Linked DNA regions of Homo sapiens: region 1 is linked to region 2. Evidence: fine-mapped expression QTL. Tissue or cell type: monocytes. Region 2 holds a variant in brackets; the other region holds the start of a gene. All regions are shown on one strand. Distances are between the middles of the regions.

The links. PIP is the estimated chance that this variant, and not a neighbour inherited with it, causes the effect.
Region 1: it holds the start of EPHB4, and the variant in region 2 is fine-mapped to the expression of EPHB4 in monocytes (TOPMed, PIP above 0.99).

What each region holds. Positions count from the first base shown.
Region 1 is chr7:100,824,047-100,832,046 of GRCh38, forward strand. EPHB4 (EPH receptor B4) reads right to left here and starts at 3,477. Exons shown (of 17, transcript NM_004444.5): 1 at 2,933-3,477; 2 at 157-227. The coding sequence starts at 2,984. It also overlaps a transcript of SLC12A9 not described here. RefSeq lists enhancers at 3,481-4,276, 5,073-5,868.
Region 2 is chr7:100,782,156-100,790,155 of GRCh38, forward strand. ZAN (zonadhesin) reads left to right here. Exons shown (of 48, transcript NM_003386.3): 36 at 2,468-2,679; 37 at 3,842-3,986; 38 at 5,734-5,981; 39 at 7,063-7,192. Among named protein-coding and RNA genes, the nearest start is that of EPHB4, 41 kb to the right of the region's middle. RefSeq lists an enhancer at 2,570-3,069. The variant CTTGT/C (reference allele first, on the strand shown) is at 4,252.

The sequences.
Region 1 (8,000 bases), 42 kb after region 2:
GAGGGCGCCTCTGAGAAGGGCTCAGACGACACTGCTGGGGCTGCTGTCATCTGGGGGGACAGGGGAGAGGAGTGGCACACAGAAAGCAGGCGGCACAGGCGCCCTCTCCTCCCTCAGTTTCCCTCCAGAGCTCCAGCTCCTGGGTGCAGCTCTCACCTGCCCGTCCACCTGAGGGAATGTCACCCACTTCAGATCAGCAGTTTCCAATTTTGTGTTCAGCAGGGTCTCTGAGACAGACAGAGAGACAGAGTCAGTGCCTGGGGTGGGGGAGGGAGGTCAGGAAGACCAGATCCCTGGGAACCGAGGCAGGTGGATCCTCTTAGCTCTGAGCTAGAGGAGTTGGGGGGCCAAGAGGGGAGCAAGCCCTGCCCTCTGCACCCGCCTGATTTCTGGCCTCTTCTGCTAAGTGCCAACCCCACCCCCAACATCTGGTAGGCATGGGGCTCCCTTGGGATACCCCAGATCTAGGCCTCCCTGGAGGAGGGAGGGAGATCAAAATGTACGGGGAGAAGGGGCGGCAGCTCAGAAAGGGTTAAAATGAGAGCTGCGCCCTGGTCCTGACCCCCACGAGCAGAGGCTGCTGGTGTGGGAGGGGAACCTCTTGTCTCAGCCTCCACGTTTCCTCCCCTAAGTCCCAGAATCAGCCTCTCTACCCCACAATTTCATTCCCTGTCCAAGACCCCTCTCTGCTTTCAGACCAAACACCCCGTCCTTCCCTCCTTGAAGGGAGCGCTCCGTGCCTGGGGCATAGCCCTGGCCCCCATCCCAGTACCTCCCTCCCCACGAGTGCCCTGATCAGGAAGCACTGGAGGTCGGGATGCTAGGGTTCCCAGGCTCCCGCCGAGGCCTCACATCTGGATTTGGTTATGGGAAGGCAGAGGGGAGGAGATTCTGGGGGGCGGTATGAATGGGAGGGGTGAACACACCTGGCTTGGCTCGGATCATCGGGGGAGGGGACAGGCACTGGAGGAAGGGGGGGGATTAGGAAAAACTGCACAGCCCCTGGCAGTGGAGAGTGGAGGAGGGAGGGTACAGGAATCCCCTCGGGGGCCGGCAATGTGGGGGGCATTGGGCGCTGGGAAGGGTGGAGAGGGGAGCCAGAACACCTGGCTCCCACCCCATGGGAGCTGCAGGAGAGAAGAGAAAGAGGGTGGGTGAGGCAGCCTCTTCCTGGGGACCAAATGATGTCCTCCAGCTAGGGGTCAGATGGGAAGCCAGCCAGCCTGAGGTGAGAGGCGCAAGGTCCCCATGGGTGGCAAGAGACAGCCCTGCTCACTGGGGACAGGATGCCCGGGTTCTGGGAAGGGGGTGGATAGAGGCTGCCGTCTCCACCCTCCATTGTTCCAGCCGGGATAGTGTTTTCCTGTCTCCAATTTACACACTGTCTCTGCCTCGGGCTGTCCGCAGCCCAGAGCAAGCGCAGGCTCCCTTTCTGCGTCCCAGCTCAGCTGCAGCCACGCTTTGATCTGTCAGTTCGCATGTCTCTCACCTATCTCTCCTCCACTCTCTGTCCACCTCCGTTTCTCTTTCTGACAGTCACTATCTCTCCTTCGCTTTCGGCCTCCACTTCTCGCTGTTCCTCGCGGCACAGGGCCTTGGATAAACTACTTAACCTTAACTAAGCCCCAGCCTCCTCATCTGAAAAATGGGGGCAATAATAGCACCACCCTTAGCGTTGCTGGATGGGTGAAATTAATATTTGTAAGGCGCTCAGCACAGGCCTGGTGCTTGGAAACACTCAGGTAATAGGTGTCACAATCACCATTTCCTCTTTGCGTCTTTCCTTCTCACCACACCTCGTCCTCGTGGTTTTTCCACCCCTTTGGCCTTCCTCTTCCCCTCGTTCATGGTTTTTGTTCCCCCTTCTCCGTTCTCTGAGCTGGGCAAGCCTCCCCTCACTCCCAACCCCACACCTAGCCTTTGATCCCCAGCCCAGGGCAGTCCTGCCCAGCCAGGGGGAGAGGGTTTTTCTAACGCCGCTGAATCCTTCCCTTTGGGAGTCCCTCATAGCCTACCGCCCCATAACCACTTTCATACCAGACAGAGAAAGGGGGGTGTTGGCAGCTCACTGAAAGGACATTAGGGACACAGGAGAGTTTCTAGGGCTCTTGGCTCCCCCTTTAGGGGACCAGGAGGGACAGCGATCCATGGCCAAAGAAATGCTTGGAGAGACCAGGAGGTGGGAGATAGACTGGGTTAGTTAGGGCGATGTGGGGGCTGTGTAGGTCAGTTTCTACCTGGGGGCTGTGTAGGTCAGTTTCTACCCGCTCCTAGGTCTCAAGGGAAGCCCGGGACTCACCTGGGGCCGGGGTCTAGACCGCATTTAAAGGGATGGGGTGCAGCCTGTAGAAACCAAGGAGCCACCCTATACCAGGGGCAGGAGCAGTGGGCGGGAGAGCGGTTTGGGGGTTTGCTGTGTGAATGCAAAGGAGGCCATCCTGTTGCAGGAGTGTGGAACTGGAGGATCAAGGTGTGATCGCTAAGGAATTGGCGCTGGGGGTCGTTTTAGGGCCTAGCACGAAAAGTTGTGCCTTGTCTGCTGTTGCTTCTCCAGAAACCTTCCCTCATGTACGGCGGGAGGTGGGACTGGGACAGAAACTTTGCAGATAGTTTTGAATAGTGGGGTAGGGAGGAAAGGAAAGGCAGCCAGGGGCGTATGTAATCAGCAGTGAGAGTTCGGGGAGCCCGGGCAGGGGAATGTCCCGGGTCGTAGCCAGACTCCATCTCTTTCCCAAACAAAAGAAAACTCCACTACCCGTCGGGCGCCTCTTCCCCGCCCCCCTCCCGTTCCAGCACTATCGGTCCGAAGTGTTTGGGACTGCAGTGCCCGGGTAGGGGTAGTCAGAGGCCGGCCCCTCCACTCCGAGGCCCAGATGTTGGGGGGGAGGTCCCAGGAGTGACGGGGTGCGCCCCCCCCCGCAAGGAAACTCACCTTCCAAAGCTGCGGCCAACGAAGCCCAGCAGAGCAGCACCCGGAGCTCCATGGCGCCGCCTCACTCGGGTAGGATCCGAACTGAGTTTGGGGGGCCCTCGCCCCCCCAGGTCTGACTCTCCCTGGGCGGGTGGACGCCGATACTCCGCGCGGGACTCCTCGTCGGGGCCCTCAGCGCGGGCCCATGCGAGCGTGCGGGGCACCGGGCGGCGGCGCCAAGTGTGGCCCCGCGTCTGTGCCGCGCGCGCGGGCGGCGGGCCCGGAGCGTGCTGGCAGTGGCCGCGCCGGGCGGGCGCGCAGCAAGACGTGGCTGGAGTTGGGGTCCCTCCGGGGCCTCGGGGTCCCGCCCCGGGTGGCGGGGGCTGAGCCGGCCGCTCGCGGTCTCCCCCCCTCCCTGGAGTGGCTCTGCTCGCGCCGCCGGGCCGAGTGCTCTCCTCGCGGGCGGGGATGGTGGGAGCCCGAGCGGGGACGGAGCGGGAGGGAGGGAGACTGCGGCGCGGAGCCGGGCGGGCCGGGCCGGGCAGGGGCTGAGCTGCGCTGGAACTGGGCCGGGCGGCGCCGGGCCCGGGAGGGAGGGGCGCGCGGGGGGCGGGGGCAGCTCTCCCAACGCGGGGGCTCCGCGAGTGAGCCCCGGGCGCGCTGATTGGAGCTCACGCTACTGAATAATTCATGAGGGAAGCGGAGAGGGGCACCGAGTGGAGCAGGTCGGGAAGTTGAGAGAAAGTTTGGAGAAGGGGGAGGGGCGGCGGGTGAGGAACCCCGGGACCGCCCAGATGTGCGCCGTGGCGGTGCGCGCTGTCCAGGACCGAGCATGTCGGGGCTGGGGCCCAGGGACCCCCGGGACAGGCCCGAACCCGGCTGGCACCAGGGAGCAGAGAAAACACACACCCAGCAGCAACACGGAGGGCCGCCCAGGCGTGCACGTAAATGTTCACCGCGCACACAAAGCCCGCTCTGACCTTGCTGCGGACTCTAGATGCCGCTCTTGGATGCGCCCACCACCCTCTAGTGGGCGCAGGGACTGCGTTTTGGGGGAAAAGGAAGGAAAAGGGAGTAGAAGCTTTGGAGAATTGACGGCCGCCCAGGGGGCCTCAAGGAGCAATCCCAGTTTGGATAGCCTTGCAGCGAACGTTCACACAGTCACCCCATAAACATTCAGTGTTGGGGACCTACTGTGCGCGCAACCAAGCCCTGAAAAATGTCCAGAGGAGGCGCGCACTAAGCTGCGCTAGGGAGTAGAGAAAAATCGAGGAAACAACGGTAAAGAAAAGGTGGGTGTGGCGGGCGCGGTGGCTCACGCCTGTAGTCCCAGCATTTTGGGAGGCAGAGGCAGGCGGATCATTTGAGGTCAGGAGTTCAAGACCAGCCTGGCCAACATGATGAAACCCCGTCTCTACTAAAAATACAAAAATTAGCTGGGCATGGTGGCGCGCGCCTGTAATCCTAGCTACTCGGGAGGCTGAGGCAGGAGAATTGCTTGAACCGGGACCTAGGAGGCGGAGGTTGCAGTGAGCTGGGAGCTGAGATCGCGCCACTGCACTCCAGCCTGGGCTACAGAGTGAGACGAAATCTCAAAAAAAAAAAAAAAAAAAAAAAAGGTGGGTGTGTCCGAGAGGGTGAGGGGTCCGGCTAGATCTCCAAATCGCCCTTCTCACTCTCACTCTCGTGTTTTGGGGGGGCTTCCCCGCCGCCCGCAGCCATGACCCCTGAGGCTGGGGCTGCGGCTGCGGCTGCTGTCTTTCCTGAGCTGTTTCCTGTCTGGCTCCTGGGGGCCCTCGGGATGGCTGGGAGGGGCCCTTCCTCTCACTGCCAACTCCCCTCACCCTCCCATCAGTTAGCGGGGAGGGTCCAGCACAGCCGTGCTCCTCCCACCAACCCCCTTCTACTTCAGGGAACTTAACAGTATGGGTTACTGGATAGATGGATTGGAGGGGGTGCTGCTCCAGGAGTCAGCCCCTCCAAGGGGCAGAAGGAAAGGACTTAGACTCCCACAGTAATTAGCGGGGACAGATTTTTTTTTTTTTTTTGAGACAGAGTCTCCCTCTATTTCCCAGGCTGGAGTGCAGTGGCGTGATCTGGGCTCACTGCAACCTCCGCCTCCCAGGTTCAAGCGATTCTCCTGCCTCAGCCTCCCGAGTAGCTGGGATTACAGGCACAGGGCACCAACCCCGGCTAGTTTTCGTATTTTTAGTAGAGACAGGGTTTCGCCATGTTGGCCAGGCTGGTCTCGAACTCCTGACCTAAAGTGATCCACCCACCTTGGCCTCCCAAAGTGCTGGGATTACAGACGTTAGCCACCGCGCCCAGCCGGAGGACAGAATCTTGAGGAGCCCAGCAAGAGAGACGTTGGAGCCCAGCAAGAGAGACGTTGGAGTCCAGGATGCTTGGGGGGCTGCCAAGCGCCCTTACGTCCCAGAAAGGACAGCCGGGCCTGTGATAACCTCTTGTCCCGGCTTACTTATCTTCCTGCTGCAAGAGGTGTTCCCCACACCCCTGCCCTTCCTTGCTGTTCTGCCTGGGTCCTGCGCCCGGGTTGGGGGGGGTGGGCCGGTCACCGAGGGCAGGAAACAGCCGGCTTCACTGGAGCCAGGCAGACCAGGCTGGAGCTGGGAATTCCCTCCTCCCTCCCCGATGCAGGCCCAGTCTCCCCTTCTCTTATTCAGCTTCTCCCTCGGGGTTCTCTGCAACCCTCTCCCAAACCCCTGCCCTGCCTTTTGCCACTCTCACTCTGTACCCAGATCCTGTAGCCTCTAAAAGTTATGTCTTCTGGCTGGGGACAGTAGCTCAGGTCTGTAATCTCAGCATTTTGGGAGGCCGAGGCGGGTGGATCACTTGAGCCCAAGAGTTCGAGACCAGCCTAGCCAACATGGTGAAACCCCTCTCTACTAAAAATACAAAAATCAGCTGGGCATCATGGCACACACCTGTAGTCCCAGCTACTAGGGAGGCTGAGGCACGAGAATCGCTTGAACCCGGGAGGCAGAAGTTGCAGTGAGCAGAGATTGCACCACTGCACTCCAGCCTGGGCAACAGAGCCACACTCTGTCTCCAAAAAATATATAAAGTAAATAAATAAGTAAATAAATAAATAGGCTGGGCGCAGTGGCTCACACCTGTAATCCCAGCACTTTGGGAGGCCGAGGCAGGCGGATCACCTGAGGTCAGGAGTTCGAGACCAGCCTGGCCAACATAGTGAAACCCCTTCTCTACTGAAAATACAAAACTTAGCCAGGTGTGGTGGTGCAGGCCTGCAGTCCCAGCTACTCGGGAGGCTGAGACAGGAGAATTGCTTGAACCCTGGGAGGCAGAGGTTGCAGTGAGCTGAAATCGTGCCACTGCACTCCAGCCTGGGCAACAGAGTGAAACTCTGTCTCAAAACATAAATTAATTAAACAATAGAAAACACTCATCTTAGTGGGGCACAGTGACTCATACCTGTAATGCCAGCACTTTTGGAGGCTGAGATGAGAGGATCGTTTCAGTCCAGGAGTTTGAGGGCAGCCTGAACAACATAGCGAGACCCTGTCTACAAAAAAAGAAAGAAAGAAAGAGAGAAAACATTCTATTCCATGTCAGGTCATCAGCCCACACCCCACACCAGGCAGTAATCTATTTTCTACCATCTAGTGTATGCCAGTCAAAGAATGAAAAAATGAAATCTTTACTGAGCATCTACTACGTGCCGAGTGATCACATTGCTAGTTTTCAAGATTTGTAAAACATGGTTCCTGGCCTCAAAGAGAATCTGGTAAAAATTAATATAGTTTTATGTCATCTGGTGAATTACAACCTGGTAGAAAAAAAATCCCATGATTTCCCCTTTACGTGGAGATGGCATCTGAGATTTTCACTTCAATTCTCAGGAACCACCCTTGGTCTATCCTGTGTGTGTGAAGTCATGTCCTCCACCCTTAGACCACCCAGAACCACTTCCCAGGCAAGCAAATTCAGTAGCCACTAAATTACAGAACGTGGGTGAACATTCACGTTACTACCTGAATCCATGCCTGTTCTGCAGACCAAACCAAACTCAGCCCTCCCTTCCTCATTATTAGAGCACTTTGCTGTTCCCTACCCAAAATATTAGGCTGTCACCTTTGTTCCCAGCCCAGAGCAATATACTGCTATCACACGGTGCATTGTCGGTACTTGCGCATAGCATCCACCAACAGCTACTGGAGTTTTCTTTTTCTTTTCTTTTGTATTTTATTTTATTTTATTTTTGGAGACGGCGTTTCACTCTTGTTGCCCAGGCTGGAGTGCAAAGGTGCGATCTCGGCTCACCACAACCTCTGCCTCCTGGGTTCAAGTGATTCTCCCGCCTCAGCCTCCCAGGTAGCTGGGATTACAGGCATATGCCACCACACCGGGCTAATTTTGTATTTTTAGTAGACGCGGGGTTTCTCCATGTTGGTCAGGCTGGTCTGGAACTCCTGACCTAAGGTGATCCACCTGCCTTGGCCTCCCAAAGTGCTGGGATTACAGGCGTGAGCCACTGCACGTGGCTCTTTTTTTTAGAGATAGGGTCTTACTGTATTGCCCAGGCTGGAGTGCAGTGGCACGGTCATGGCTCACTGCAGCCTTGACCTCCTGGGCTCGAGCAATCTTTCCTCAGCCTCCTGAGGAGCTGGGACCCCGCGCGGGGACCATGCCCGGCTAATAAGTTTACTTTTTCTTGTACAGATTGTGACAGTTGTTTTGAGTAATCCTGGAGTTACAGCTTTTCCTATTGTAAGAAATAACAAGCAGCAAATCACCCCTTTCTCCGTAAATTGTTGAACTTCTCATTACTCTTTCCACATCTCAGTCTCCCCTCTTCTGGGCCACCTAACTGTGTCGGGTCCAAAGTTCAGGTTTACCCCAAAGTTCATGAAGTTTAAGCTTCAGCACCTCTCACCTGCCTGGCTTCTTCCACGGCCCTGGTTAATAAGTGCCATAATTTAAACAGTTTTGAAGGTGAGTTTCAGCAGGACAACACTTGAAATGACCTGAAATCTTACAGCTCTGTTACAAAAGGAATTTGATAGAGTTTTCAACATTACCAATAGAGTTGTAAAGCTCAAATAAA
Region 2 (8,000 bases):
CAAAGTTTTCCAGTCCTTTTTGTTTTCATCTTTTGACTTTTTTTTTTTTTGCCATGCAGGACAAAAATTTTTATGGGGTCAAATATATTAATCTTGTTTTATGTCTTCTGCATCTTGAGCAATAGCTATAAATGCTAGCCCCACAGAAGCTACAAAAGAGTTTGCTGATTCTTTGCTCTAGAAATTTTGTTTGTTTGAGACAGAGTCTCACTCTGTGGCCCAGGCTGCAGTGGCACGATCCCGGATCACTGCAACCTCTGCCTCCTGGGTTCAAGCGATTCTCCTGCCTCAGCCTTCCGAGTAGCTGGGATTACAGGCACCCACCACCATGCCTGGATAATTTTTTTGTATTTTTAGTAGAGATGGGGTTTCACCATGTTGGCCAGGCTGGTCTCAAACTCCTGGCCTCAAGTGATCTGCCCGCCTCGTCCTCCCCAAGTGCTGGGGTTACAGGCGTGAGCCACCGTGTCCGGCCTGCTCTAGAACTTTTATGGTTTCATTTTTTTATATTTAAGTGGGTTTTTTTTGTGTGTGTGTGTGTGTGTGTATTTAAGTTTTTGACCCATGAAGATTTATCCTGATGTGTAAAATGAGGTATGAATCAACTTTGTTTTTGTTTTTCTCCAGAAGGCTAGCCAGCTGTTCCAATATTATTAAATGACTAGTCTGTCTTTGCGCAGGGACTGAGATACCACAATTTATCATATACTAAATTCCCATATATATTTGGATCCATATCTGAGCTTTCTCCTCTGTTCTGTCGGTCCATCTGTATTTGCATGTAGCAGTAACACAAAGTCGTAATCACTGAAAATTTAAAATGAGCTTTGGGCTGGGCGCTGTGGCTTACGCCTGTAATCCCAGCACTTTGGGAGGCCGAGGTGGGCGGATCACCTGAGGTCAGGAGTTTGAGACCAGCCTGGCCAACATGGCAAAACCCCATCTCTACTAAAAATACAAAAAATAGCTGGGCGTGCTAGTATGTGCCTGTAATCCCAGCTACTCAGGAGGCTGAGAAAGGAGAATTGCTTGAACCTGGGAGGTGGAGGTTGCAGTGAGCTGAGATTGTGCCATTGCACTCCAGCCAGGGCGGAAAGAGCGAAACTCTATCTCAAAAAAATAAATAAATGAATAAATAAAATAAAACAAAATAAACGACTTATGGAGGGCCATTCACTACTGATGGCTCTTTTTTTTAGGGAGTTCCTGGCTTTTCTGGTTTGCTTATGTCTTCAGCTCAACTTTGAAATCATCTTGTCCTATTAAAAGCACACACATATATAAAATACTTTTGGTGGCTGGGTGTGGTGGCTCATGCCTGTAATCCTAGCACTTTGGGAGGCCAAGGTGGGAGGATCACCTGAGGTCAGGAGTTTGAGACCAGCCTGGCCAACATGGTGAAACCCCATCTCTACTAAAAATACAAAAATTAGCCAGGCATGGTGGCACATGCCTGTAATCCCAGCTACCTGGGAGGCTGAAGTAGGAGAATCTCTGGAACCAGGGAGGCAGAGGCTGCAGTGAGCCAAGATCATTCCTGGGTGTCAGAGAGAGACTCCGTCCCTGCCCGTCCCCCGCAAAAAAAAAAAAAAAAAAAAAAAAAAAAAAATATATATATATATATATATACACATATATATATATACACACATATATATATACATATATATATATGTATATTTTATTGAGATCACATTAAATGTGTACATTCACTGAGGCAGAACTAACATCACCATGTTGCTGAACCTTCTTATCCATGAACATGGTATGCATTTCCATTTGTTCACACTATTTTTGCTTAAGGGCCTTTCTTTAACTCCCCCAACAGAATTAATACCTCCCTGCTCTGTGCCTCCATCATGCCTTGTATGCTCTTGCTGTCAACACACCTACTGATCATACACATCAAGGTCCTGCTGCCGTTGCTGTTTGACCACCGTCCTTCATGCTGGCTTGGGAGAGCCATTCTTGTTCCTTTTTTTTTTTTTTTTTTTGAGACAGTCTCACTCTGTTGCCCAGGCTGGAGTGCAGTGGTGTGATCTTGGCTCAATGCAACCTCTGCCTCCCAGGTTCAAGTGATTCTCCTGCCTCAGCCTCCTGAGTAGCTGGGACTACAGGCGCCCACCACCACGCTTGGCTAATTGTTGTATTTTTAGTAGAGATGGGGTTTCACCATGATGGCCAGGATGGTCTCGATCTCCTGACCTTGTGATCCACCCACCTCAGCCTCCCAAAGTGCTGGGATTACAGGCGTGAGCCACCATGCCCAGCCGCTTTTTCCTTGCTTTCCCCCAAAGCCTGGCACATAACCCATACTCAGTAAATGTTTGCTGAATGAATAACAAAAGAACAAAAAAAGCTCCCCAAGCCTTGTTGGTCATCCACCCATAGCTTGGTTTGTACAGCCCCTGCCCACCTTGGCCCCCTGTGACCCTCTCCACTGACCCACTGTCTCCTTCACCCACAGCTCTGGAATGCCCTGCCTACAGCAGCTACACCAACTGCCTTCCCTCCTGCTCACCCTCCTGCTGGGACCTGGATGGCCGGTGTGAGGGCGCCAAAGTCCCCTCTGCCTGCGCTGAGGGCTGCATTTGTCAGCCCGGCTATGTGCTGAGTGAAGACAAGTGTGTCCCCAGAAGTCAGTGTGGCTGCAAGGATGCCCATGGTGGCTCCATCCCTGTGAGTGGGCATGGGAAATGGGACTGGAGGCAACACAGCTTGAGGGCAGTGCTTTCTCCTTTTCTCTGCCTCTCTCAGCCTGGGATACCCATGACTTACAGCTGGCCCGGGGGTGTGAAGGCTGGTGTGAGTGGCACATTGATCTCCAGCCAGGTCTGGGCTGATGGCACATGGTTTGGGTTTTGGATCTGAGGAATCCAAACAAGCAGCACATGGCATGGTATAGTGGAAAGACCATGGGCTCATTTCAGCCTAACCTAGGATTGAATCCTGATGGTGCCACTGATGAGTCAGATGACCTCTGTTATATCCGTTTCCTCATCTGTAAAATGGGTTCAGTAGTACCTCCTGCACAACATATGTAAGTCACCAAGCACAAACACAGTGCCTTTTTTTTTTTTTTTTTTTTTTGAGACGGAGTCTCCCTCTATTATCCAGCAGGCTAGAGTGCAGTGGCATAATCTCTGCGCACTGCAATCTCTGCCTCCTGGGTTCAAGCCATTCTCCTGCCTCAGTCTCCTGTGTAGCTGGGATTACAGGCAAGCGCCACCACAGCCTGCTAATTTTTGAATTTTTAGTAGAGATTGGGTTTCACCATGTTGGCCAGGCTGGTCTCGAACTCCTGACCTCAAGTGATCTGCCCGCCTTGGCCTCCCAAAGTACTAAGATTACAGGTGTGAGCCACCACACTTGGCCTGCACAGTTGTCTTTTGGATGACCAAATGACACTGTGGCTGCCTCTGGCCAGCATCAATTAAGCCATTTAGATGGTGGGCCAGGCTGCTGGGGCAAGAGGAAGGAGAACTGGCCCTCCCCTCTTCACTCTTTTTTTTTTTTTTCTTGAGACAGAGTCTCGCTCTGTTGCCCAGGCTGGAATGCAGTGGTGCGATCTTGGCTCACTGCAACCTCTGCCTCCTGGGTTCAAGCAATTCTCCTGCCTCAGCCTCTTGAGTAGCTGGGATTACAAGTGTGTGCTACCACACCTGGCTAATTTTTGTATTTTTAGTAGAGACAGGGTTTCACCATGTTGGCTGGGCTCGTCACAAACTCCTGACCTCAGGTGATCCACCCGTCTCGGCCTCCCAAAGTGTTGGGATTACAGGCGTGAGCCGCCGCGCCCAGCCCCCTCCTCACTCTCTTTCTCTTCCTGTAACTTCTACAGCTGGGCAAGAGCTGGGTCTCCAGCGGTTGCACGGAGAAGTGTGTCTGCACGGGAGGAGCCATTCAGTGCGGGGACTTCCGATGCCCCTCTGGGTCCCACTGCCAGCTCACTTCCGACAACAGCAACAGCAATTGTGTCTCAGACAGTAAGGGGAGCGACCGGGGAGGTTGGAGAGGGGAGCACCTGTGGCCAGGGCGGAGGTGGAGGAAGAGGCAGGGTGGGAAGGGGCTTAGCCTGAACCCCAGCACAGTCAGGGGTTGGGGCGGGCGACTGGATCAGGAGGCCTGGCCTCCAGTTTAGCTCTTGCTAACTCTGTGGCCATGTGCCAGGTCCTGATCCCCTCTGGGACCCTCCACCTGCAGGGCAAAAAGAGGGGACTGGTCAAGGAGATCCTCCAAAGTTTTTCTTTT[CTTGT/C]TTGTTTGTTTTTTGAGATAGGGTCTTGCTCTGTTGCCCAGGCTGGAGTGCACTGGCACCATCATATAGCTAGCTGCAACCTCAAATGCCTGCAATCATGTGATCCTCACATCTCAGCCTCCCAAGTAGCTGGGACTACAGGCATGGACCACCACACCCAGCCAATTTTGCTATTTTTTTTCTAGAGATGGGGTCTTGCTATGTTGCCCAAGATGGGCTTGAACTCATGGGCTCATGTGTTCCTCCTGCCTCAGCCTCCTAAAGTGTTGGGATTACAGGCATGAGCCACTGTGCCCGCCCCCTCTAAGGTTTTTAATCAGGCCAGGAGATAGAGAAAATTGAAGATCAAGGATCCAGGGAGGCTGGGCATGGTGGTTCATGCCTGTAATCCCAGTACTTGGGAGGCAGAGGTGGAAGAATCACTTCAGCCCAGGAATTTAACACCAACCTGGCCAACATAGGAAGACCCTGTCCCTACAAAAAATTTTAAAATTTTAAAAAATTAGTTAGGTGTAGTGGCTTGTGCCTGTAGTCCCAGCTACTCAGGAGACTGACGCAGGAGAATTGCTTGAGCTCAGGAGTTTGAGGCTGCAGTGAGCTATGATTGTACCACTGCACTCCAGCCTGGGACACAGAGTGAGATCTTGTCTCAAAAAAATAAAAAAATAAAAATAATAATAAAGGGCCTCTAATTGAATGTCAGTAGGTATTGAAAAAAAAAAGTCTAGGTACCGGGCTTGGTGGCTTATGCCTGTAATCTCAGCACTTTGGACTTTGGGAGGCCAAGGTGGGAGGATTTCTTGAGGCCAGGAGTTCAAGACCAGCCTGGGCAATGTAGTGTGGCCATTTCTAAAAAAAAAAGAAAAAAATTAGCTAGGGGTGGTGGTGCGCACCTAAAGTCCCAGCTACTCAGGAGGATCACTCGAGACCAGGAGGTGGAGGCTGCAGTGAGCTATGATCGTACCACTTGTACTCCAGTCTGGGTGACAGAATAAGACCCTGTCTCAAAAAAAGAAAAAGAAAATTAAAAAAAGAAAAGAAAGGATCCAGGGAGCCTGAGCCTAAGAGGGTGGCCACAGGGGATGCCACCGTGGGGGAGGGACTCTGGGGACTGTCACACCTGGGCAGGGTCCCTTCTCAGTCTTTTGTTTTGTTTTTTGTTTTTTTGAGATGGTGTCTTACTCTGTCTCCCAGGCTGGAGTGCAGTGGCGCGATCTCGGCGCTCACTACAACCTCTGCCTCCCGGGTTCAAGCAATTCTCTTGCCTCAGCCTACCAAGTAGCTGGGATTACAGGCACGCACCACCACACCTGGCTAATTTTTGTATTTTTAGTAGAGACAGGGTTTCACCATGTTGGCCAGGCTGGTCTCAAACTCCTGACCTCAGGTCATCCACCCGCCTTGGCCTCCCAAAGTCCTGGGATTACAGGCGTGAGCCACTGCGCCCGGCCCCTTCTCACTGTCTGACTTCTTGGCAGAGTCTGAACAATGCTCAGTCTATGGCGACCCCCGTTACCTCACATTTGACGGCTTCAGCTACCGCTTGCAAGGCCGCATGACCTATGTTCTGATCAAGACTGTGGACGTACTGCCTGAGGGGGTGGAGCCCCTCCTCGTGGAAGGACGCAACAAGATGGATCCGCCCAGGAGCTCCATCTTCTTGCAGGAAGTGATTACCACCGTCTACGGCTATAAAGTGCAGCTCCAAGCTGGTCTGGAGCTTGTGGTAAGAGCTGGGCCAGGGCCTGGTGGGTGTGGGGAGGCAGCTGGACCAGGTAGGCCACCTGGAGTAGAAGTCAGGGATCCCTGTTCCCTGGGATGTTTGTGGCAGGGGTGGGCTGGTTGTAAAATCAGAGTCAGCAGGACGCAGTGGTTCACGCCTGTAATCTCAGCTACTCAGGAGGCTAAGACGGGAGGATCACTTGAGCCCAGGAGTTCAAGACCAGCCTGGGCAACATAGCAAGACGCAACATCTCTGCAAAAAATTTAAAATGAGCTGGATATGGGGGCGCACACCTGTAGTTCCAGCTATTGGGCAGGCTTAGGCTGGAGGATCACTTGAGCCCAGGAGTTTGAGGCTGCAGTGAGCCAAGATCTTGCCACTGCACTTTAGCCTGGGTGACAGAGAGAAACTGTCTCAAAATCAAAAACAAATTCAGCAACAAGCTCACTTCATGTGGGGAGGCAGCAGAGGCTGGCAAGAAACAAGAGGAAGAGAGGAGGAGGACAGAGCGTGAGGTGTGTGAAGGTCAATCCTGGGCTGAAGAACCAATGGCATCCACTACACCAATGTATTTTTATTTTTTGAGGCAGAGTTTCACTCTGTCGCCCAGGCTGGAGTGCAGTGGCACCATCTAGGCTCACTGCAACCTCCACCTCCCAGGTTCAAGTGATTATCCTGCCTCAACCTCCCTAGTAGCTGGGACTACAGGTGTGCACCACCATGTCTGGCTAATTTTTGTATTTTTAGTAGAGACGTGGTTTCCCCATGTTGGCCAGGCTGGTCTGGAACTCCTGACCTCAAGTGATCCGCCCGACTCGGCCTCCCAAAGTGCTAGAATTACAGGTGTGAGCCACTGTGCCCGGCCTCACTGAGCCAATTTTTTGCAAGGAAGGACTTGGGCTGGGAAGGGGGCGGACCTCACAGAGGTTTCTGCCACGTGAATAGCAAAGCCCATTGGGGTATCTTATTCCACTCTCTGCACGGAGACATATGGAGATGACTGGGAAAAGTGAAGCCCAGCCAGGAAATGGCAGCAGGTCAGGAGGATTCAGCCCTGTCTGTGGCTCCTGTCTTCCCTCTTTAGGTCAACAACCAGAAGATGGCCGTCCCCTACAGGCCAAATGAACACCTGCGGGTCACCCTGTGGGGCCAACGGCTCTACCTGGTCACCGACTTTGAGCTGGTCGTCAGCTTTGGTGGAAGGAAAAATGCAGGTAATGGAGAGAGGGGAAAGAAGAGCAAAAGGGCCATTTCTGGGAAGTGGGAGGGAAAATCCTATTTAAGACAGGCAAATCCTGGTGAGCAGACTCGGCCCGGTAGTGGGGCACCCAGCTTCAGAGGAGGACCAGGAGGAGGTGAGGTGAGACCAGGTGGAGAGCAGAGGGCAGAGTCTTGGCTGGGTGCTGTGGCACTGGCCAGAAATCCCAGCGCTCCGGGAAGCTGAGGTGGGAGGATCGCTTGAGGTCAGAAGCTCAAGACCAGCCTGGGGAACATAGTGAGACCCCCGTCTCTACAAAAAAAATTTTAAAGGCCGTGCACAGTGGCTCACGCCTGTAATCCCAGCACTTTGGGAGGCTGAGGCAGGTGGATCACCTAAGGTCAGGAGTTCAAGACCAGCCTGGCAAACATGGCGAAACCCCATCTCTACTAAAAATACAAAAATTAGCTGGGTGTGGTGGTGGGCGCCTGTAATCCCAGCTACTTGGGATGCTGAGGCAGGAGAATCGCTTGAACGTGGGAGGCGGAGGTTGCAGTGAGCTGAGATCGTGCCACTGCACTCCAGCCTGGGTGACAAGAGCAAAACTCCATCTCAAAAAAAATTTTTTTTTTTTAAATGAGACAGGTGTGATGGTGCATGCCTGTAATCCCAGCTTCTGGAACTGGAGAGGCTGAGACGGGAGGATCGCTTGAGGCCAGGCATTCGAGACCAGCCTGGGCAACATAGCAAGATCCCATCTCTATAAAAAATAAAAATAAAAAATTAGCTGGATGTGGTGGTGCACACCTGTAATCCCAGCTACT